2 separate regions of the Homo sapiens genome follow, and region 1 is linked to region 2. Evidence: fine-mapped QTL for protein levels in blood plasma. Region 2 holds a variant in brackets. A gene starts in the other region. All regions are shown on their forward strands.

What was found. PIP is the chance, under the fine-mapping model, that this variant and not a neighbour inherited with it causes the effect. Protein levels are from antibody-based Olink assays in UK Biobank. Linkage for the fine-mapping came from a reference panel and not from the study's own genotypes, which makes the PIPs less certain.
Region 1: it holds the start of F10, and the variant in region 2 is fine-mapped to the plasma level of the F10 protein (UK Biobank, PIP 0.98).

Annotation. Positions count from the first base shown.
Region 1 is chr13:113,119,143-113,131,336 of GRCh38, forward strand. It overlaps F10 (coagulation factor X), which reads left to right and starts at 3,657. Exons shown (of 8, transcript NM_000504.4): 1 at 3,657-3,783; 2 at 10,310-10,470. The coding sequence starts at 3,714. F7 (coagulation factor VII) reads left to right here. Exons shown (of 8, transcript NM_019616.4): 8 at 1-1,543. It overlaps F10-AS1 (F10 antisense RNA 1), which reads right to left and starts at 10,904. Exons shown (of 3, transcript NR_126424.1): 1 at 10,864-10,904; 2 at 9,593-9,735; 3 at 9,013-9,283. It also overlaps the pseudogene KARS1P2. RefSeq lists enhancers at 10,082-10,808, 10,809-11,535.
Region 2 is chr7:73,458,538-73,470,954 of GRCh38, forward strand. It overlaps BAZ1B (bromodomain adjacent to zinc finger domain 1B), which reads right to left. Exons shown (of 20, transcript NM_032408.4): 8 at 11,808-11,946; 9 at 10,980-11,113; 10 at 7,759-7,864; 11 at 6,902-7,000; 12 at 4,385-4,562; 13 at 999-1,181. Among named protein-coding and RNA genes, the nearest start is that of FZD9, 31 kb to the left of the region's middle. The variant T/G (reference allele first, on the strand shown) is at 5,177.

The DNA.
Region 1 (12,194 bases), not on the chromosome of region 2:
AGACAGAAACAGAGAGAGACAGAGACAGAGAGAGACTGAGGGAGAGACTCTGAGGACATGGAGAGAGACTCAAAGAGACTCCAAGATTCAAAGAGACTAATAGAGACACAGAGATGGAATAGAAAAGATGAGAGGCAGAGGCAGACAGGCGCTGGACAGAGGGGCAGGGGAGTGCCAAGGTTGTCCTGGAGGCAGACAGCCCAGCTGAGCCTCCTTACCTCCCTTCAGCCAAGCCCACCTGCACGTGATCTGCTGGCCTCAGGCTGCTGCTCTGCCTTCATTGCTGGAGACAGTAGAGGCATGAACACACATGGATGCACACACACACACGCCAATGCACACACACAGAGATATGCACACACACGGATGCACACACAGATGGTCACACAGAGATACGCAAACACACCGATGCACACGCACATAGAGATATGCACACACAGATGCACACACAGATATACACATGGATGCACGCACATGCCAATGCACGCACACATCAGTGCACACGGATGCACAGAGATATGCACACACCGATGTGCGCACACACAGATATGCACACACATGGATGAGCACACACACACCAATGCGCACACACACCGATGTACACACACAGATGCACACACAGATGCACACACACCGATGCTGACTCCATGTGTGCTGTCCTCTGAAGGCGGTTGTTTAGCTCTCACTTTTCTGGTTCTTATCCATTATCATCTTCACTTCAGACAATTCAGAAGCATCACCATGCATGGTGGCGAATGCCCCCAAACTCTCCCCCAAATGTATTTCTCCCTTCGCTGGGTGCCGGGCTGCACAGACTATTCCCCACCTGCTTCCCAGCTTCACAATAAACGGCTGCGTCTCCTCCGCACACCTGTGGTGCCTGCCACCCACTGGGTTGCCCATGATTCATTTTTGGAGCCCCCGGTGCTCATCCTCTGAGATGCTCTTTTCTTTCACAATTTTCAACATCACTGAAATGAACCCTCACATGGAAGCTATTTTTTAAAAACAAAAGCTGTTTGATAGATGTTTGAGGCTGTAGCTCCCAGGATCCTGTGGAATTGGATGTTCTCTCCCTGCCACAGCCCTTGTCAATGATATTTCACAGAGACCCTGGGAGCACCTGCTCAAGAGTCAGGGACACACGCATCACTAAATGCAAGTTCCCAGGCCCTGGCTGCAGTGGGAGGACCTGGCAAGCTGCACTCTTGCTGAGTCCCCAGGGTGGTGGAAGAAGAATGAGAAACACATGAACAGAGAAATGGGGAGGTGACAAACAGTGCCCCCACTCAGACTCCGGCAAGCACGGCTCAGAGAGTGGACTCGATGCCATCCCTGCAGGGCCGTCCTGGGCACCACTGGCACTCACAGCAGCAAGGTGGGCACCATTGGCACTCACAGCAGCAAGGCAGGCACCAGCAACCCACCTCGGGGGCACTCAGGCATCATCTACTTCAGAGCAGACAGGGTCTATGAACTACAGCCGTGGGCTGCTTCCAAGGCACCCTGCTCTTGTAAATAAAGTTTTATGGGAACACACCCATATTAGTGTCCATGGAGTGGCCGTGGCAGAGACGTCCAGCCGGACAGACCAGCTGACCCGCCAAGCCCAGCATGGTTAGTGTCAGGACCTCTGCTGAAGATGCTTGCTGACCCTGGCCAGACCCCGGTTCCTAATGCCCCCTAAACGGGACGGGAGCCAGTGGCGGGCCCTGATCCAGGTCAGAGCTGGCTCTGCTTTCTCTTTTGTCCGAGTGACCATGCCTCAGTTTCCTCATGTGTAAAACAGGAGCCCACCGTGATGCTTATGGTGGGATGAGATCAGCATGGATGGAACAAGGCCCTGGAAGGGCCCATGCCATGGTCATCGACAGCAAAGCCACTCTGCAGACAGATGCTTCAGTGAATTGGTAGAAAATTCTGCAACCAGAATGCCCGGGGCTCCTGAGGGCCTAAGCCCAGCCCAGGGTTCTGGAAGCCACTCTGACTTCTTGGGAGTGGAAGTTGGCAGGACTCTTCCTGGGAAGAAGCGGAGGGTGGGGATGAGAGGACAGTTCAGGAGCCCACCCAGACCCACAGGAGGAAACTAGGGGAGTCATGCGGGGTCCTGGTGGAGCGCCAGCCTCCCTTCCTGCCAATGGGAAATGCAGGCGCCCACCTCATGGTGCTGCCGGAGGAGGGGGCCCGGGACTCCCCAGAGGCTTCGCTGAAGGGCCTGGGCGCCCCCAAAGGCTACATGTTTCATATGGGACGTGCCACCTGCCACGGCTCAGCTCCAGCTTTCTGTGAGTGGCGAGATAGAATACGGGGAGGCCACTGGCCATGGGCCTGGGACAGGGTGGGATGAGGCGGCAGGCTTGGGCCACCAAAGCCAGCATCGCCACCCAGCATTGATGACAAAGACTGCGTGTCTGCCATGAGCATCCTGCTGTTGGTGCACACACCGCATTGGTCTCTCCATACAAACATGCCTAGAGGCGATGTCAGAGGGTGGAGACCAGGAGAGGCAGGAGTCAGACATCTGGTGCCACCAGGAAGGCCCTTCTCAGAGGACCAGGCTGTGCGTGGTGCCCGCCGTGGGAGGCCAGCCTGGCGTTGGCATCCAGCATCATCAGTTTGTGCAGTCGGGTGGGGCTCAGTGAGTGCCTCCTGTGTGCCAGGCACAATGACGCACAATGTGTGCACACCAGGCTCATGTGCAGGTGGCTGCGAGACAGGGCGACCCATCAAGGCAGATGCACCATGAGGCAGTGGCCAGTGCTGTGGGTGTTAGGGGCATTGCTCCCCGGCCACTACGGCATAGCAGGCAGTGATCGCCACACTGGCCAAGCTTTAGACCATTTATTCCAGAGACCCCAGAGGCAAAAAGCCCGGCTGCACCTCCCAGTGACTCCCACAGCCATTGAGCAGAGACACTCAGGACCTTGTGATGGGAGGTTTCTGCACTGGAGAACGAGCCCAGAAGCCCTCTCAGCCTCGGAACAGTGTGGCCAGTGGTGGGCAGGTCAGGAGGGGCTTCAGACACAGCCTGTCCCTCCAGATGGTCACGGGAAGGTCACTCCCCACAGAAGTACGTTTTGGGGCCATGCGGGCACAGAAGGTTTGGGGGTGGGTGGGGCAGGTGCCAGCCTGGCCTGTGGGAGGCCATGGTGCAGATGCCAAGCCCCCCCCGTGACATGAGACCACCTGATACCACCCAGAGAGTGGCTGTGAGCGGAAGGGCCCGCCCAGAAACAAGCAGGGCCTTGGGGCAGAAGTCCTGGGCTCAGATCCCACGCTCACTGCCAGCGGCCTCGGCTCAGGCTTCTGCGCTCTCTAAACTTAGTTTTCTCTTCTGGAAAAATGATGGGGAAAATGATATTTGTATGTGAGGACTGAGAGTTAAATGTAAACATCTGGAAACTACAAAATGAGCACGAAATGATGTTTTTATTCTTAGAACAGAAAGTCCCCACACCCGCGGCCCTGGTGACTGATGAGGATGAGGTTCTGCGGGGCCTCTCTGGCCGCCCAGCTCTGCCTGGGGAAGGTGGGGCCAGAGTGGATGTGTTCCCAGCGTGGTCACTCCCCTGCCTCGCCAGCAGGTCTCGGCTCCAATCAGGAGGCCTAAGCCAAGTGATAAGCAGCCAGACAACAGCCATCCCAGCTGGGGCGTGGACTTTGCTCCAGCAGCCTGTCCCAGTGAGGACAGGGACACAGTACTCGGCCACACCATGGGGCGCCCACTGCACCTCGTCCTGCTCAGTGCCTCCCTGGCTGGCCTCCTGCTGCTCGGGGAAAGTCGTAAGTGCCCCTCGCCCTTCAGACCCAAAAGCAGCGCCAGGGAGCAGGGAGGGGCGGCAGTTGGGGAAACCCTCTCATCTCTGCAGCCTGGACGGTGGGTGCCTTGAGTGCTGCCAGAGGCTGGGCTCGGATGGCTGGGCTTGGCCTTTCCAGCCAACGGCATCCTCAAGGCCAGCTGTGGCTCCCTGGGGCTGAGAGTCAGACGGGCGGATCAGAGGTCACAGAGACAAAAACACAAGGACAGAGTCAGAGAGAGAAAGGGAGAGGGAAGGAGAAACGGAGACACAGTGAGATGGGAGGCCAAGAGGCAGAGACAGAGGTAGAAAGACGGAGACAGAGAGAGAGGGAGGGGTTGGGGCAGGCAGAGACAGGACAGTTAGCCATCTGCCACCACAGGGAGGCACAGGACGAGGGGCACAGCAGAGGAGCTCCCAGGGAGGAGGAGGCTGAGCCGAGCCAGTGCCACCACTCTCGGACTGGCTCCGTCGGGGAAGGAGCTGCCTAATGCACAGCTGGACAGGTGGGGGCAGCAGGGCTGTCCAGGACCCCCGGGTCTGTCCAAAAGCAGAGGCCCAGACAGGACAGAAGCCAGGCAAGCCTGGGGACAGCGGAGGAAGAGGAGGCCCCTCTGGTGGGGACACGAGAGACAGGGACCCTAGACTTGTTTGCATCCTGGACAAAGTGGACAGGCAGGGGCACCAAGGGGACCCAGGCCTGGGAAGGGAATGTGTGAGGGAGAGACGGAGCAGGGGGAGACCCTCGTGGGGTGGAAAGGGGAGACCCCTGGGAAGGCTGAGTGGATCCTCAGTGCATCACTGACCTAAACGGCCCCTCCGCCTGGTGACTTGGAGCTCCAGTCACATCACACGGGGGTCTTCTCCATCCCACCCTCAACCCCCTGCCCTCCCCAGCCTCTGTCCCCTGAGCCACATCTTCCTGTCTCCCACGCGGAACGGGACTCCCGTCTTCATGGGGTACTGTGTGGCTCCAACTCGCCCAGCCTTCTTCCTCCCCCTCAGGCCACACTGCCCCCTGCAGGAGCCCACTGTGATGCTTGTGGTGGGATGAGATCAGCGTGGGTGGAACAAGGCCCTGGAAGGACCCATGCCATCATCATCGACAGCAAAGCTACTCTGCAAACAGACAGATGCTTCCGCGAATTGGTAGAAAATTCTGCAGCCGGAATGCTCTAGGATCCTGAGGCCCTAAGCCCGGCCCGGGGCTCCCGAGGCCCTAAGCCCGGCCCGGGACTCTGGAAGCTGCTCTGGCTTATTGGGAATGGAAGTTGGCAGGACTCCTCTTCCTGGGAAGAAGCAGAGGGTGGGGATGAGAAGACAGGCCAGGAGCCCACCCAGACCCACAGGAGGAAACTAGGGGAGTTATGCAGAGTCCTGGTGGAGCGCCAGCTTCCCTTCCTGCCAATGGGAAATGCAGGCGCCCACCTCGCGGACCTCTGGGTCCACAGGGTATTGGCACCCTTAGCTGTGTGATGCGGGCCTGGCTCATAACCATGGCCTGTGGTGTCCCCGGGGGCCGGCCTGGACCCTGGGTGGACATGGCCAGCCCCGGAGAGCCAGGGCCAGGCCATCTCTCTCCCCTACTCTGCCTCAGAGGCCTCGGCAGCTGCACTGTGGGGTGGGTGGGGCTGAACACAGGTCCCAGAAGGTCCCACTCAGGACCCTGCTGTGCACACTTTTGATTTTAATAAAATCAGAATGCGCACAGCATCTGCAGTCTAGCCTTTAAACGAGCACAGCTGTCCTGGCAGTCACGGAAGTTCTTCTGGGGCGGTGGGACCTCAGCATTCCTTTGCTGGTACTGCTACAAGAAAGGACAATGGACCAAGTAGCTTAAAGCAACAGAAACATTTCTCCCACAGCTCTGGAGGCTGGAAGTTCAAAATCAAGGCGTCAGCGGGGCTGGTTCCTCCAGAGGCTGGGAGAGAGTCTGCTCTAGGCCTGTTTCCTGGCCTCGGGGTGCCAGCGGCCTCACAGCCCATGGCTTGTGGGAGCATTGCTCCCATCGCTGCCTCCATCATCGCATGGGGTTCTCACCATGGCTGTTTTTCTGTCTTCTTTTCTCTCAGAAGGACACCAGTCATTGGATTTAGGGCTCACTCTACTCCCATAAAATGTCTTCCTAACTAAATACATCACAAAAGTTCTATTTCCAATTAAGGTCAGGTTCTGAGGTTCTGGGAAAGACATGAATTTGGAGGGACATTATTCAGCCCTGTCCTGCCACCTGTGAGTGTTTTCTGCAATCCAACTTTTTATTTTAATAAAATCAGAATACGCAGAGCACCTGCAGTGCCAGCCTTTAAACTACTGCTGTTGTACTGGCAATCATTAAAGCTACGTGGCTTCAGTTTCAATCTTTACATTCAACAAGTTTAAACCCATTCTTCATGAGTTTGGACCTTACTGACTGAAAATTTTGCTTGCTGGTAAAACTTGCTCAAATGCAGTTGCTGACTGTGGAATTCACTGATGTTGCCAAAACAACAAACACAACTGTGTGCTCGAGGATTGCAATGCTCCCAACAGCTTCTGAAGAAACAAACCACACGACAAATGTCTACCAATCTGGATGCTCCATATCAGAGTTCTAGAGTGTTCCATTAATTTCTTGAGACAAGTGCCTAAAAACCTTGTTTTAATTTCGTTTTGCCAAAATCCCATTTTACTCACATCAGAAAGTGTGGCCACGTGGCCCAGACCCGGCCTGCTCAGTCTGACTGAAGCGTTGATGCGACTCAGCCATAACAGATAGCAGAAGCGCCCAGATTCAGTCCAGAGGGCTGAGCCAGGCACGCCATCTTTCCTTCATTCCCTCAACACATATTGGTTAAGTTCCGGCCGTGCTAGGCACGGGCATACAGCTGTGACCAAACACGTCAAGTCTTTTTCCAGCGGAGGGAAGGATAAGCCTGTCAGCATGTAATGTCAGAGAGGGGTTGGGTGCTAGAAGACAAATAGCACAGTGTAAGGGGATGAAAGAGACACGAGTGGGGGCAACGTCAGAGGGCGTGGTCAGGGAGGGTGTCTCGGAGGGCGCTGGGCCTGAGCCACTTGGGTATCTGTGGAAAGAATGTTCCAGACAGGGAGGTGACTGGTGCAAAAGTCCTGGGGTGTGAGTGTTGGGCTCAGCCAGGGTCAGCGCAGAGCCCAGTGTGGCAGAGAGAGGTGAATGAGGGCAGAGTTGAAGGTGGTGAGGCCTGGGAGGCCTGGCCATGGGAAGACCCTGGGCTCTGTTCTAAGACCACTAGAGGCAGATTCTGGGTAGTCCTTGACTTCCTTGCATCACCCTTTCCACCCCGTGCCTGCCACCTGTACCCTCTTCCTCACACAGTCCAGCTCAACCTTATAGGCCGTGTCCTACCCCCATGAGCTGGGGAGAGCTGAGCAGGCTTCAGGGAGATGGGAAAAGGCGGGAACTGGACAGGGGCTGCAAAGGAAAGGTGACTTCTTACTGGTCAATCAGCCTGGGGATGCTCGGGGGTGGATGCCAAGGGGAACAGAGCTGTGGCCGCTATCACAGAACAGCGAGTTCCTCTAAGAGGTCAGAGGAGGCGCAAGGGATCGACCAGAGACAGTGAGGGCGTCAGGCTCCAGTTGAGTGGGGACCAATCCTTGTGGCAAGTCTGTGAACCATCACTGTGGCTCTAGGGTAGCAGAGAAAAAAGCAGGCATATGTCCATCTGGCCACAAGGAAGGAGACCAAGGGGAAGAGAGAAGGTACCAAGAGAGGTGTTCACATGGAGGTGCGTCAGAACACCGAGGGCAAGGCAGAACGCGGTCTTCAGACCCCAACTGGAGCCCAGGAGGCCCGCGAGTCCCAGTTTGGGAAACACTAAGCCAGGCTTGGATAACTTGTCTGAGGCTGTGGTCATCCCAACATGAGAGCCAGAGGCCCCAAGGGAGATGGGCATTCCCCACCCCTCAGCTTCCTCAGTGCCTTTTGTGGAGTGGAGGTGACATGAGGCTGCAGGTTGCAGGGAGCCACGTGTGGGCTGCATTTCAGAGCAAGTGTGTGGGAGTGGAGCAGACACGCAGAGTAATGGGGCAGGGTCAAGAAATAATAAATCTAAGTCTAGCGTTGGTGGGATAATGTCGGTGTCACTAAAAGAAATGGGGAATTTGGAAGGTAAAGTAACTGGAGGTAGGAATGAACCCAAGATTTACTAAGCACCTTCTGTATACCAAACTCAACACTAGGAGTTTATACAATCTTTAAAACAGCTCTAAGAGTAGATATTATAATTCCCTTCTGCCAATAATAAATAATAAGTGACTAAGGTGTTTTTGAAGCTCAAGATTGCTTGATTCTGCAGTCTTGTTTTAAATTTTGGACATGGAGAGTTTGGAGTTCTGAGATGAGGGAAGGCATCTGTCATAGTGAGAGAGCTGAAAACATGGAGCTCAGGACAAAAGTCAGTGCTAGAGAGATCAGTTGGAAGAGTTATCTTTATTGTAGTGAGACATTGAATTTTTCAGTGGAAAAAAAGCACAGAAAAAGACTACAGAGGGCCAAGAAAAGAAACTGAGGCTGTCAAAATGAAAAGAGGAGGAGGAGTGGGTGAGAGACAAAGGAGACACAGGCAGAGAGATGTGGACAGCACAGCCCACAGACACACACTCTACAAGGGACACAGACTCTCGGATCCAGGGCATTTTAACCAGCAGATCAAGACTCATTTGCCAGTCATGAAATCAACTCAGTATTTTTTTTTAAAAGAGTAGAATCAAATAGAAAACTTTGTACTAAGTACTGTATTTTAGGAAATACTAATAAATACTATTTCTTGAAAGTTGGCATGTATGTGTGTCCTGGCACTTCATAAATTGTACTATTATAGTTTGTAATTGAAACAGCATCACCAATCCCCACATAACAAAGAGCAGAGACCTTAAAGACGAGTGGGGCCAGGCTGAAGGGGCACAGCTTGAGCCAAAGCACAGAACAGTGGGCTGAAAGCACCCTAGGGAGGGAGAATTCAAGGAAGGGGGCTTGGGTGGCCAGGCTGAGCCAGCGTGAGCATGTGAGGAGGCTGGTGAGCTGATTGGGTGGGATGTGTCTACTTCTCCAGAGAAGGGTGCATGGGTCTAGAGCAGGTGCCTCATGCTGTACCTCATAGAGAACTGGGGGGAGGGGGGAAATGGGCATTTCCCTCCACAGCCCCCAAAGTGCCTGAGGAAAGTGTTGATAAAGAAGCCAAACTCTGTAAAATATTTGAAGAGATTTATTCTGAGCCAAATGTGAGGACCACGACCCATGACACAGCCTTGGAAGGTCCTGAGAACATGTGTCCAAGGTAGTTGGGTCACAGCTTGATTTTATGTATTTTAGGGGGACAGAAGTTACATACAGACACCAATCAATAAGCATAAGTTGTACACTGGTTCGTTCCAGAAAAGGGGAAGGTGGGGGCTTCCAGGTCATAGGTGGCTTCAAAGATATTCTGATTGGCAATCAGTTGAAAGAGTTATTATCTAAAGACCTGGAATAAATGGAAAGGAGTATCTGGGTTAAGATAAGAGGTTGTGGAGACCAAGGTTCTTGTTATGTAGATGAAGACTCATAGGTGGCCACCCTTAGAGGGAATAGATGGCAACTGTTTCCTCTTCAGACCTTTAAAAGGTGCTACACACATGGCCAGGCGCCTTGGCTCATCCTGTAATCCCAGCACTTTGGGAGGCTGAGGCAGGTGGATCACTTAAGGTCAGGAGTTCAAGACCAGCCTGGCCAACATGGTGAAACTCCATCTCTACTAAAAATACAAAAATTAGCCGGGTGTGGTGGTGCTTGCCTGTAGTTTCAGCTACTCGGGAGGCTGAGACAGTAGAATCTCCTCCTGAGGCAGGACAATGGCTTGAACCTGGGAGGCAGATGTTGCAGTGAGCTGAGATTGTGCCATTGCACTCCAGCCTGGATGACAGAGCAAAACACCATCTTAAAGAGAAAAAAAAAAAAAAAAAAAAAAAAAGGTGCTAGACTCTCAGCTCAGAAAAAGACCTGGAATGGTAAGGGGGTTCTCTACAGAATGTGGATTTCCCTGAGATAGCTTTGCAGGGCCATTTCAAAATATGTCAAACAAATACAATTTGGAGTAAAATCATTTATTTTAGGGCCTGCTATATGTCATGTGATCCTATACTAGAGAAGTCAGGTTGGAAACTGGTATCTTATTGCTACAAAGACTCTGTTTGGTCAGCCTCAAGGTCTCTTAACGTGAATGCTGGTCAGCTGTGCCCGAATTCCAAAGGAAGAAATAATGAGGCGTGTGGGACCTGCTTCCCCTCATGGCCTCAACTAGTCTTTCAGGTTCCTATGGAATTCCCTTGGCAGAGAGGACGGGTCCACTCAGTGAGTTGGGGGCTTAGAATTTTATTTTTGGTTTACAAGAGAGTGATCCGCCTTTTGTGATCTGGATATGGCAAGGGACATGGCAGTCAGGGAGCATAGGTGAGGGGGAGCCTGGGTGAGGGTGACCAGAGCTTTTAACCCTGTCCTCCCTGCCTTCCAGTGTTCATCCGCAGGGAGCAGGCCAACAACATCCTGGCGAGGGTCACGAGGGCCAATTCCTTTCTTGAAGAGATGAAGAAAGGACACCTCGAAAGAGAGTGCATGGAAGAGACCTGCTCATACGAAGAGGCCCGCGAGGTCTTTGAGGACAGCGACAAGACGGTAAGGGCTGGGGATAGCCTGGCTGTTGGTAAGGAGCTCAGGCCACAGCGCCCTCGCTGGCCCCGCTGCTCCGTCCATCCAGGGGGGCGGCCTGGAGGAAGGGGCAGCGTGCGCGAAGGCTTTCAGGGGCGGGGCCCAGCAAATCGAGGCCTCGGCGGAGTCCTGCCCACAGGGACATCAGTGCCGCCCCCGCGCTGACTCCTTCCCGGCGAGGACTCAGCGGGGAGGGATGCGCCCAAGTCCCTTGAGGGTCACAGGGCTTCTGCCAGAGTTAAGTTCTATTTAAAAATAAAATGTTAACCTAAAAACCAATAGTCATGGTCTCGGCCAGCGCCTCGCCGAGTTGCAGTGAGCTGAGATCGTGCCCTCCCACGCCCGCAGCCCGCGTCCTGCCTTGGCCTCCGTAGTCGCTGAGAGCCACAGCCTAGAGCGCCAGCGCGCAGGCGCACAACTGACGCCAGGCCACGAACCCAGTACTGCTCCTGCACAGCAGAAGCACTAGCACTGAGGCCGGGCGGCGAACCCGGCACTGCGCCTGCGCAGCAAAAGGACACGCACTGAGGCCAGGCCGCGAACCCAGCACGGTGCCTGCGCAGCAGGAAGACCGGCATCCACACCGGACGACGAACCCAGCATCGCGCCTGCGCAGTAGGAGGAGAGCAATGCCACCAGGCCGCGATTGCGCAGCCGCAGCAGCCCCGCGCGGAAGACGCTACCCTCCTCTCCCCCGAAGAGGCGGGGCTTCGAACGAACCTGGAAATGGCCGAGGGGTCTCGACTTCCTCACCCCAGGCATCAGGAAAGGTGCCTGCAGGACAGGGCTCTGAAGTGGAAGTGGGCGGTGGTGATGCCGAACTGACAAGAATGAGCTGAAGAGAAGAAAGTAGCCGAGAAGGGGGCCAAGCCGGAGCTCAGTGAGCAACAGCTAGGCCAGCCGCGGCTGGTGCCATCAGCCACACCACTAACTGTGGACCCAAATGGAAACTTTGAGGCCCCTTACAGGTCCCCCAGCGCAGGCCACCGCCGAAGGTTACTGGGGAAGACCCCTGCAGCTTCCATGTGGACATTACTCGCTTGCTTCATCCCGGAGTGCAGTCACCTGCAGCCTGGGACCACCTGACTGATGTCACCCTGGAGATCCATGCCAAAAGAGCTGGGGAAAGTTCACCTTCTAATGACCCCTGCGGACCAGGGTGAAGTTACAAGTTATGGCCAGGTCAAGGAATTATAAGTCAATAAATAAACTGCCTCAGGGAGACGTACTCAGAGTCCAGGAAAATCTAGGAAACACCAAGAAGGGCGAGCGCAGCATCAGCCCCTGCAAAATTGCACTGCTGCCTCCTGGCTCACATGTTGCCCCATCCTTACTTTAGCCTCAAAGGCAAGGAGACCCAATATTATTTGAGTACTTGGATTTGATCCTGAGTGACTTTCTGAGAAAGCAGTGTATCATCTGCCCTAAGATCACCACATATATGACAAGGTTTTTGGATGAGTTGAGATTTCTAGACATTGAAACCCTCATGATGAACGTCATCCCGGGTAGCAGGGGCTAAGCCTTTCATCACCTGCTACAACAAGCTGGACATTAACTTGTATTTGAGAATTGCTCCAGGACTCTACCTTCAGATGCTGGTTAGTAGCATTGACTGGATTTATGAAATTGGATGCCAGTTAAGGAATAAGAGAATGTATTTGATTTGCCACCCTATATGGTCTGTGCAG
Region 2 (12,417 bases):
TGGTGGCATGCACCTGCAATTCCAGCTACTTGGGAGGCTGAGGCAGGGGAATTGCTTGAACCTGGGAGGTAGAGGTTGCAGTGAGCTGAGATTATGCCACTACACTCCAGCCTAGGCAAGAGTGGGACTCTTTCTCCAAAAAAAAAAAAAAAAGTAAATTTGTATGTTATGCATATTTTTACCAAAATTTAAAAAATATCTAGAGCAAGCATGGCTGGGCGCAGTGGCTCACGCTTACAATCAAACTTTGAGAGGCCAAGGTGGGAGGATAGCTTGAGGCCAGAAGTTCAAGGTTACAGTGAGTTATAAGCAAATCACCGCATACCAGCTTACACAAGAGCAAAACCCTGTATCTAAAAATTAAATAAACAAATTGTTAATGTGTTTAAAAGTCACCACCACCTTTTTAAAAAAGAAAGTAAACTGGTAGACCAGGAGTGGTGGCTCACGCCTGTAATCCCAGCACATTGGGAGGCCGAAGCGGGTAGATCACAAGGTCAAGAGATCGAGACCACTCTGGCCAACATGGTGAAACCCCGTCTCTACTAAAAAATACAAAAATTAGCTGGGCGTGGTGGCACGCACCTGTAGTCCCAGCTACTCGGGAGGCTGAGGCAGGAGAATCGCTTGAACCTGGGAGGCGGAGGTTGTAGTGAGCTGAGATTGCACCACTGCACTCCAGCCTGGTGACAGAGCGAGACTCCATCTCAAAAAAAAAAAAACAAAAAAAAGAAAGTAAACTCTGGTAAAGGTGGGAAGGCCACATCCACTGTGACCATCACCCAATGACCAAGAAGCAGGGCTGCACTCCACAGGCCAGTGTGAAAACCACAGAAGGGGTAGAAAGTGATTAAAAAAAAAAAAAACACACACACACACAAAAACACTCACTCAGGGCACAGTGCCTATAGCAGCTAAAATGCATAGGGTTAGATTATTTTAAAACCAAATCAACTCATCTACGGAATCATAAACTACAACTTATAACAACAAAATACCTTTGCTTCCTCTACCATTTTCTTCTCTTCATCCACTTCCTCAGTTTTTGCTGAATCTTCACTTTGGAGTTTTCTTCTCTTTTGCTTGGGAGCCATGAAGCCTTGGAGAAATTTCTTTATGACACTGGCCTGAAGGGCAATCACACACTCACCAAAATCCTTCAATTTCTCTAATGAAATGACCTATAGGAAAGGATTTTAAAACCAGACTGAGAAAAGGCCCAGAGGAAGACGAAAGGAATCCAACCTCAAATTCAAATAAATCTAGACTCAAATGCCACATAACATTCATTAAACAAAATCGAGAGCCACATACCATTAATTTAACTGTGCTCCTCAGTTCACTGCATGGCTCATGCATTTAAAAGTACTTGACTGGCCGGGTGCAGTGGCTCACGCCTGTAATCCCAGCATTTTGGGGGGCCAAGGCGGGCGAATCACCTGAGGTCAGGAGTTCAAGACCACTTTGGCCAACATGGCAAAACCCCATCTCTACTAAAAATACAAAAATTAGCCAGGCGTGGTGGCACGTGCCTGTAATCCCAGCTACTCGGGAAGCAGGAGAATCACTTGAACCCGGGAGGAGGAGGTTGCAGTGAGCCAAGATCGTGCTACTGTACTCCAGTCTGGGTGACACAGCGAGACTCCGTCTCAGGGAAAAAAAAAAAAAAAAAAAAAAAAAAGTACTTGACTACTTCCCTTTTCCCAGCTAAGGGATCCACTAAATGGCAGAAGCCCCCCCACATAAAGGAGTTACATAGTTGATTCATTCAATAATGACTGAGTGCCTACTATGTGTAAAATACAATTTTAACGCAAAGACACACTAAGAAAGTAAAATAAAAATTCACTGACTTTCCATCTTAATGTTTTTTTAATTTTTTTCTTATTTCTAACTTGCTTCCAGCATGTAACTAACTATATGTAAGGTAGTATGTTTTACAAACTTGATCTCCTTTTTTTTATTTTTAAAGAGATAGGTCTCACTGGGTCACCCAGGCAGAAGTGCAGCAATCACAACTCACTGCAGCCTTGAACTCCCAGACTCAAGTGATCCTCCTGCCTCAGCCTCCCCATTAGCTGGGACCACAGGTACATGGCATCACGCCTGGCTAATTTTTTAAATTCTTTTTAGAGACAGGGTCTCACTATGTTGCGCAGGCTGGTCTCAAACTCCTGGCCTGAAGCGATCCTCCTGCTTCACTGATCTCTTTTTAAGCTTCACATCTACCTGATAGATGAGGAAACAGAAGTTAAATCACTTCATCAAAATCATGCACCCAGCCAGGTGTGGTGGCACATGCCAGTAGTCCCAGCTACTTGGGAGACTGAGGCAGAAGGAGTTTGAGGCTGCTGTCAGCTATGATCTGTGAATAGCCACTGCACTTCAGACTGGGCAATATAACAAGACCTATCTCTCTCTTTTTTTTTTTGGTTTTTTGTTGTTGTTGTTTTTTGAGACGGAGTTTTGCTCTTGTCGTCCAGGCTGGAGTGCAATGGCGCGATCTCAGCTCACTGCAACCTCCGCCTCCCGGGTTTAAGCGATTCTTCTGCCTCAGCCTCCCGAGTAGCTGGGATTACAGGCATGTGCCACCATACCCAGCTAATTTTTGTATTTTTAGTAGAGACGGGGTTTCTCTATGCTGGTCAGACTGGTCTCGAACTCCCAACCTCAAGTGATCTGCCCACCTTGGCCTCCTAAAGTGCTGGGATTACAGGCGTAAGCCACCGCGCCCGCATGAACAAGACCTATCTCTTAAAAGATCAATTAATTTAAAAATAAAAAGAAAAGAAATAAAAAATGTCCTTAAATACTATCTTGTCAATCACACAAGACATGCCAATTAGAAGATAACGTTTTAATAGTCACAAAGAAAACTAAGAAAAATGACAACCTAACGTCAGCAAGATATAGGCCTGAATTTGGCACAAAGTAGGCAATTAATGAACATTTGCTACACAAAAAAGTAAACATGTAACATCTGAAACCTGCAAGATCCTTTGGGTTCAATAATTCTTTTTAAAAAAATCATTAAGAACCATAAAGATGTTTAAATCCTTTTCCCCAGGAAATGTACCAAGAATTCATCACAAGATTAATTAAAAAGAAAAAATGTGCATATGTAAGATACACATATTATTTGCTTATTCCAATAGCAAAGAAAAACAAGCTAAAATAGTTGAAAAGTACTTATAAATTAGGAAAAATGGCATGGGGGAATGCAAATGAAACTGTTCATAAAAATCACAAAACTATAAGAGCACATATGTTGGCTGGGTGAGGTGGCTCATGCCTATAATCCTAGCATTTTGAGAGGCTGAGGTAGGAGGATCTCATGAAGCCTGGAGTTTGAGATCAGCCAGGGCAACATAGTGAGATTTTGTCTCTACAAAATTTTCCATGTGTTTGTGTGTCAAACAGGGTCTTGCTATGTTGCCCAGGCTGGTCTCGACCTGCTGGGCTCAAGCAATCCTCCTGCCTTAGCCTCCCAAAGTGCTGGGATTATAGGCGTGAGCCAACATGCCCCGTCTCTACAAAAAAATTCTAAAAATCAGCCAGGCATGGTTGCTTGTACCTGCAGTCCCAGCTACCTGGAAACCTGAGATGGGAGAATCACTTAAGCCCAGGAATTTGAGGCTGCAGTGAGCAATGACTGTGCCACTGTACTTCAGCCTGGGTAACAGAGGGGACTTCATTTCTTTAAAAAGAAAAAAAAGACAAAACATCATAGTGCATGAGGAATTTGAAAAGACCCACAAATATTAATATGTCTAGAATTATGTGGACTTATTGATTTAAAATCAGTAAAAAACGGTTTATAATAGTAATTGATGGATACTATTCACCAATCTTTGATACCTAAACCTACCTGTTACGGGGTATGGGATCTTTTGAAAAGTTTCACCTATACCACTTAAGGGTCCCTCTGAGCAATAAAGGACAGGACTGTAATGACAGCACACTGGACAACATGAGTGATGCCCAACATAAATAGAAATCTGAGCTGACTGAGTGTGAAGAATGGGCAAGTGCAGGATATGCAAGCATGTTTCACACCTGAAAGCACAGGCATCGCAAGGTAAAGATGTTAAATGATGCTATACGACTGGAGCCTCTACAACCAGTTTTCATTCACCTTAGTAGTGAAGCTCTTTTCATACCAAGGTTGTAAGCCAATTACTAAGTTTTTCTGGATAGCAGCAAAAGATAACAAGGAAAAAATACATATACATAAGGTATTTTTGGTTCCATACATGTCTTCCAAGACAAATCCAAACATCTGATTTCCAGGAGGGTCATGTTGGGAAGTCAAGAACAGCACCAGGGAAGAACTTCAGATTGAGTTGCCATGAGTAATCTAAGGGGGATTTTCTTATATTCCTACCCGGGCTTCAAATTCTGATGTTTCTTCCACATATCCAAGTCCTCCTTTTTGTAACCTTGTTGCAACTTCAATGAGATCACTACGAAGGAAGTTTAAAAGCTCCTGGTTGCCATCACAAGATTTTAGACCCAAATTTGGCTTCCGTGCTAGATGAATAGAGTGAATAATGTCCTGGTACCTAGAAGATTTGGGACAAGAGAATGGGGAAAGAAACAAACTTTTGAAGATGTTCTTCAAATTTCAATTACTTAACATGTTTTATTTCTAGAAAACTTACTTAGATCTCTTTCACCTCTCCCTGGTGTTTTTTCTTTTTTCTTTTTTTTTTTTTTTTTTCCCCCGAGACAGGGTCTTGCTCTGTCACACAGGCTGGAGTGCAAAGGTGCCATCACAGCTCACTGCACCTTCAAACTTCTGGACTCATGCAATCCTCCAACCTGAGCCTACAGCTGGGACTACAGGAATACCCCTCCACACCTGGCTATATTTTTAATTTTTTGTAGGGATGGGGTCTTGCTATGTTGCCCAGGCTGGTCTCAAACTCCTGATTTCAATTCAAGCGATCCTCTCCCCTAGGCCTCCCAAACTGCTAGGATTACAGGTGTGCACCACCACACCCAGCCACTTCTAAGCTTTTAATGGAAGGATTCGATCTTCATATTTAGTGAACAAAACAGGTCTTTTCAATTCAACACACATAGCTATCAAATGCTCTGCCCAAAGAGAAGGAACATCATAGAACTATATTTCTTTGTGGCTCTGTATACCGACATTTTCCTTTGTCTTTTTTTT[T/G]TTGTTGTTTTTGAGATGGAATGTCGCTCTGTTGCCCAGACTGGAGTGCAGTGGTGCGATCTTGGCTCACTGCAACCTCCACCTCCCGGGTTCAAGCAATTCTCCTGCCTCAGCCTACCTAGTAGCTGGGACTACAGGCACCCGCCACCATGCCTGGCTAATTTTTGTACTTTTAGTAGAGACAGGATTTTGCCATGTTGGCCAGGCTGGTCTCGAACTCCTGACCTTGTGATCCGCCTGCCTCTGCCTCCCAAAATGCTGGGATTACAGGCGTGAGCCACCGCGGCCGGCCCTCCTCTGTCTTTCTTAATTTGCCTAGACACATCTGTATTCAGACAACACAATTCTGAATACAGTTTTACTTAATTTACACATTAAGCAGTGGGCTAACATCAATATAATGTACCTATTGTCCTTCGCAAAAGTCTGGCAATGGTGTAGAGTATGTACTGAATCATATTTTCCTTCTCTCTTCCATCAAACCTAAATTCAACCGTGAAATTGAGCACAGAGTCAGCAATGAGAGGAGGCATTAAGCCAAAATCTTGTCCTGGCTTTGATAGAAATAATGTCTACAACAAATATGGCAGTCGCAAATTTGATGCTACTTTGTAGACAGAACAGGGTTTTTTGATTCTTTTTAATTCATATGACATGAAATTCACCAACTTGAAGCATGTACTTCAGTTTTTTGTTGTAGAACCACACATGTAATTCCAAAACATTTTCATCACCCCAAGCAGGAATCTCTTACCTGTTAGCAATCATCACTCCTATTCTCCCCTTCCCCTATCCTCTGGCAACCACTAATCCACTTTCTGTTTGAAATAGATTTGCCTATTCTAAGATGTTTCATTTGAATGGAATCATACACCACATGGCCTTTGATGTCTGACTTCTTTTGCTTAGCATGTTTTCTAGGTTCATTCATGTTGTAGCACAGAACAGTACTTCATTTCTTTTTGTGGCTAAATAATATTCCACTATTTGAATATACTAAATTTTGGGGGTTTTTTGTTTCATTTTGTATGAGACAGCATCTCGCTCTCTCACCCAGGCCAGAGTGCAGGGGCATGATCTTGGCTCAATGCAACCTCCGCCTCCTGGGCTCAAGTGATCAACTCAGCTCAGCCTCCCAAGTAGCTAAGACTACATACACAAACCACCACACCCAAGATAATTTTTGTTTTGTTTTTTTTTTTCAGAAACGGAGTTTCCCTATGTTGCCCAGGCTGGTCTCAAAACTCCTGGATGCAAGACACTGGCCTGCCTTTACCTCTCAAAGTGCCGGGATTACAGGTGTGAGCCACCGCACAAGGCCTGGATATATACTAACTTTTATTTATCCGTTCCATCAGTTGATAGTCATTGCCGTTGTTTCCACCTTTTGGCTCTTCTGAATATTGATAGAATACTTCTGGACACCCACCCATCTGGGCCTCCATCTGCAAAGCTGTCTGACAACCATGAGGCTCACAGCTTGGTGCTGGCAACTGTTCTTTAGTGCATAATAATCCTGCTACTCTATATATAGATGGCCAAAGGTATATTTTTCCAATAAGCATAATATGCCAAGAAAATACCAGGCAATATGAACACAAAACGGTTACACATTTAAAATATTTTACTTTAGTAACTTAAATGGATAAGAAAAAAAACCCTCAGATATTTATATCCAATGCTAAAGAGAAGTAAGATGTGAGGAGTAAGATGAAAACCTCTTACCTCTTCTCTAGTCTCTCTTTAAGTTGACTTTCTCTTATTCCCTGAGGGTGAAGACAGTTTAGCAACTCATCCAGCTCCTTTTGACTATCACATAAAAACCTGTAGGGGCAAAAGAGACCTGATAACTCTGAAAAAAAAAAAAAAATTCAAAATCAAACACTAAGCAAGGGATCTAGAGTTGGTGGTGGGACTTGGGAGAACAGAATTCCAAATGTGTTCACAATCTACTATCTAGAAGTAGAATAAGTAATTTACTATTTTCATGATGCCTAATGTTAATTCTGTACTAGGACACCAGAGCCAATATGGTTCCTATTAAAATATTATATGAAATTTTATAAAGTTAATTGGCATACTTGTCCCTTTCCCTCCAGAGAGTAAACCTATACCCAAAATTCAAAAATGAAAGGTCATTAAATCACAGGTGATCACAGTTAAAGCCGTAGAATGGATCCTCTAAAACCTAGCTCGCTGCCTAAAAGCAGAAATGCGCATAAAGGAAACGAATAGCTATGCATACAATTTGTTAATTAATAAAATTTAAGGAAAATCTTAAATACTTCTATTCCCAACCAAATTTAAGCTACATTTCTACTGCTATATAAGATCTATCACATAATATACAAAGTTATATTACAGGGGGGAAAAAATCAAAATTCCAACCCTTAAAAAAACAAGTATCTTCTTAACAAAAAATCAGGTCTGCTAATGCAAGAAGTTTTGATATCCAAAATATCAGTCACACAAAGTATCCTGCGCAAATAATTATTAACTCACTGGCATCACTATACTAAATACTTTCTTCCTTAACAATTAAAAGGAAAAAGAAAGAGCAACCAGATGAATGCTCACATTACCATAGGTTCTGTCCTTGTTTGGGTGTGGTTGTCTCTACAGCAACTTCTGTTGCTGTTCCATGTTGTGTGTTCATGCTTGCATTTTTACCTAAGTTTGCTTTCTTACCTAAGAAAAATTGAGACATTAGGTTGACTTTAGTAAATACCCAATTGCTAGTTTCAAATCTAAGCAGTACACAGTGCCAAACTCAACAATTTGTAACAACACAGATACTTCCTGTGAAATATATCAAATATATCTTCATGTATAAAAGATGCTAATTTCTCTTAAATATCTTAAACACAGCATGTTATCTCAGATATTTGCTCTCTGAAGTGGAATCGTTACACAGTTCCAAAGTTTAGGGGTACTGCAACTTAGAATGAAGAATGACTAAATATCTTTATATCAAAGCAAAATAAAGAATTTACTCCTTTTACATGATGTTAAGAGCAAAGGCATCTGTAGTGAAGCAGAGGTAATGAGAACATATAAATACTATAGACTTATCCTTGGAGGCTTCAAGTGTCAAATAATACAACTAACTTTTTTGTAAATCAGTTCCTATATACTGATACGTGACTTTAACATAGATATATCTTGAGCCAATTTATCAAAGCCTATCTTAGATCATCACAATATTTGGTTTTTTGTTTTGTTTCGTTTTGTTTTTTGAGATAGAGTCTCGCTCTGTCGCCCAGGCTGGAGTGCAGTGGTACAATCTCAGCTCACTGAAACCTCTGCCTCCCAGGTTCATGCAATTCTCCCTGCCTCAGACTCCCGAGTGGCTGGGATTACAGGCACACACCAACACACCTGGCTAATTTTTCTATTTTTAGTAGAGATGGGGTTTCACCATGTTGGCCAGGCTGGTCTCCAACTCCTGACCTCAGGTGATCCGCCCGCCTTGGCCTCCCAAGTGCTGGGATTACAGGTGTGAGCTACCACGCCCGGCCAGTCACCACAATATTTGAAGCCTTACCTCATACTATGATTGTTTATCTTCTCTTTCCCATTCTCCCCACTTTAACCTGAAACATCTCTGCAATACTAACACATAACTTTGTTTAGTCTTTTCAATTGGGTAATTTATTTATTTTTTTTAATTTTTTGAGACAGAATGTTGCTCTGTCACCCAGGCTGCAGTGCAGTGGCGCAATCTTGGCTCACTGCAACCCCTGCCTCCTGGGCTTAAACAATTCTCTTGCCTCAGCCTGCCAAGTAGCTGGGATTACAGGTGCCCGCCACCACACCCGGCTAATTTTTGTGTTTTTTGTAGAGACGGGGTTTCGCCATGTTGGCCAGGCTGGTCTTTTAACTCTTGAGCTCAAGTGATCCGCCTGCCTCAGCCTCCCAAAGTGCTGGGATTATAGGCATCAGCCACTGCATCCAGCCTCAGTTGGGTAATTTTAAATAAAAACTGCCATTCTAGAACTGGAAAACACGAAACAACATCCACCAGGATGCTCTAGAAGTGAAGGGTCTGGCTCCCCAATCTTGTCTCGGGGACACATTATAAAGTAACACTCCTTCATCCCACTGGAATCTCTTCCAAATCTAAACATCCAGGCTCCACAGTTACTGCTCTCAAACCTAACTGCCCTCACCTGAGTATTTATGAAGTCTAACGAAACCAGATTCTTCTATAAAGTGACATAATCTATGCTCGATATAATTCAACATGCAAACACCTTAAATCTGAAGTTTTATTTGAAGGAATGTTTATTTTTGTAAATCAGTATTATTCTTATTTAACAATTTTGTGAGTTTCAAGCTTGAGTTAGGAATTTCTCTAAAATGAATTACTTTTTAAAAAATAAAGATTTATCGAAGAAGCACAATAACCTAGTACTCAGGAAGCAACTTCTTTTATTTCTTTATCTCCCACATGACACCAACACATAAGCAATTTTCATTAGGTTACAGACAGCAGAGCTGAAAGAAGCTTATGGATCATTTAACCTAGTGGTTCTCGAAAGGGAGCACTGCTGCCTGCCACATGTATCTGGCAGGATTTAGAGACATACTTGGTTTTCACTGCTACCACCTAGTGGGTAGAGGGGAGCTCCCGAATAACCTATAATGCACAGGACAGCTCCCAGTACAAAAAACTATCTTCCTCATCAGTGTCATGGTGGGAGGAAAAAAAAAAAGATTCATCTAGCCCAAAATGTCAGTAACACTGAGGTTGAGAAAACCTGACCTAACCTAACCATCTTATTTTTTTAATTAAAATTTGTTTTATTTCTTTCTTGAAATATACTCAATACATACACTTTAAGAAAGAATATGGATATATATTCAGAAAACTATTCAGTGTGTGTTTCTTTTACAAACTGAACACATATACCCGGCACCCAGATCAAGAGAAAGAATATTACCAGTGTCCCTACATGATCCCCTCTCAGTCACTCATTTTTCGTTAGGTATTTGCCATGTTTCTCCTCACAAGAATTTTAAGAACCTTATCTGTCTTGTTTGCTGCTATACCCCTAGCGTATGACAAACTGCTTCACAAATAGAGATTCAGCATAAACACTGAATAAATTAATTTTAAAAGTAGAAGAAGAGGGTCAGGTGCAGTGGCTCACACTTGTAATCCCCAGCACTTTGGGAGGCCGAGGTGGGCAGATCACCTGAGGTCAGGAGTTTGAGACCAGCTTGGCCAACATGGCGAAACCCCGTCCCTACAAAAAATACAAAAATTAGCCAGATGTGGTGGCACACACCTGTAGTCCCAGCTACTCGGGAGACTGAAGTAGGAGAAGTGTTTGAACCCAGGAGGTGGAGGTTGCAGTGAGCCGAGATCACGCCATTGCTCTCCAGCCTGGGCAACAAGAGTGAAATTCCGTCTCAAAAAAAAAAAAAAAAAGAAGAAGAAGAAGAGGACATCTAACACTGCCCTTCTTAGACCCCATACCTCAATTTCAGCCCTTGAGGCACCTACAAAGGCTTCCAAGGGACAAAGTTTGAAAACTGCTCCTATAAAAGCTAATACCCAAATATCCTCATATTCAAGCTCTTCATCTTCTCACACTATGCTTAGAACAAAGGTGGTAATCAAACGTGGGTTTCTCTCCTTCTTTCTACACATTTCACATCTACCTACTTCACTCAAATAGATCTAAGACCACAATAAAGAAATTCTGCAAATGGAAAACGTGACAGAGGAAAAGCAGTCCTTAATGTTGAGCCCACTTGAGCAGGGTGAAATAACTCTTAGATATACAGATATACTCACTGCGAGGACAGTAATCCTCATCACCAGAGACTGTGTGGTCTTTGCAGTGATGGTTGAATCGGTAGTCAATGCTGTCATGTACCCAGCCTTTTTCAATGAATAATCCTGGAACTTCATCTGAGAAGAGCCAGTATCTACAAATCACAACCAGTATTAATAAGACAGTGAATAGATCAGGATTGCAGGATGATTTTACTGCTGGAGAAGATAATACAGAGTATCACTGAGCATTCAAAACCACAGTTTACAGAATTCTTCCTCTTCAGAACTCTAGACAGATAAAAATTGCAAGGTAAATCAAAGTATACGAGAAATGTTGAAACTGGAGACTAGCTTAATGTTCGTAATTTGTATAATTTCTTTCTTTTTTAAATTGAAATGGGGTCTCGCTATGTTGGCCGGGCTGGTCTTGAACTCCTGGCCTCAAGCAATCCTCTCGACTCAGCCTCCCAAAGTGTAGGATTACAGGTGTGAACCACCACGCCCAGCCCTAATTTGTGTAACTACTAATATTTCTCCTTTAGGTTTCACAAAATGTATGTATTTAAAACCTACTGCCATTTTTAAAGACTTGGATTACATTTCACCTATCACCATCATGTAAGCTTCCTACTTGTGGTATATGCAAGGGCAGGAATATGTCTTACTTAACTTTGCAACTCTAGCATTTGGCAGTTAATATTCAATAATCATCAACAATTCTGTTTCCAAAAAGAATTGGAAAACTGAAGAGAGAAGCTTGTCTATTCTTGTACTTTAGAAAATTTTCCTAACTAATAGCAATGTAAATAGTCCTAAAGAAAACAAAAATTTGGTTTAGGAACTGACCTATTATGGTTTCGATCTGTGCCAATAGGAGTCCTGCGCATGACTAGTTTGGCCTTGGCAATCCCTTCCTGGAAAGCTTTCTCAGCAGCTGCTTTGTGCTTCCGTATTCGTTCTTCTTCAGCTTGGCGTTCCAGTTTCACTGTTAAAAATAAAAAGACTCAAATCAGATATTTTCCTAGTAAATCCCACTCTTACAAATTAAATAAAATATGGAGTAAAAAGTGCCTAGTATACAGTAGTTATCAAATCTTAGTTTGCTTTCTCTAATTCTAATCTGTTACAAGAAATTACATGTAAGGCAGCAACATCTAGTCCTCCTACACTCCTTGAATTTGTGGTGACATCTCATCCCTCAACTCAATGCAAAATCTTTTATCTCCAAAATATCACTTCTTTTTGTTTTTGTTTTGAGGCAGAGTCTTGCTCTGTCACCCAGGGTGGAGTGCAGTGGTGCGATCTCGGCTCACTGCAACCTCTGCCTCCTGGGTTCAAGCAATTCTCCCGCCTCAGCCTCCTGTGTCGCTGGACTACAGGCACACACCACCGTGTCCAGCTAATTTTTACATTTTTAGTAGAGACGGGGTTTCCCCATGTTGTCCAGGCTGGTCTC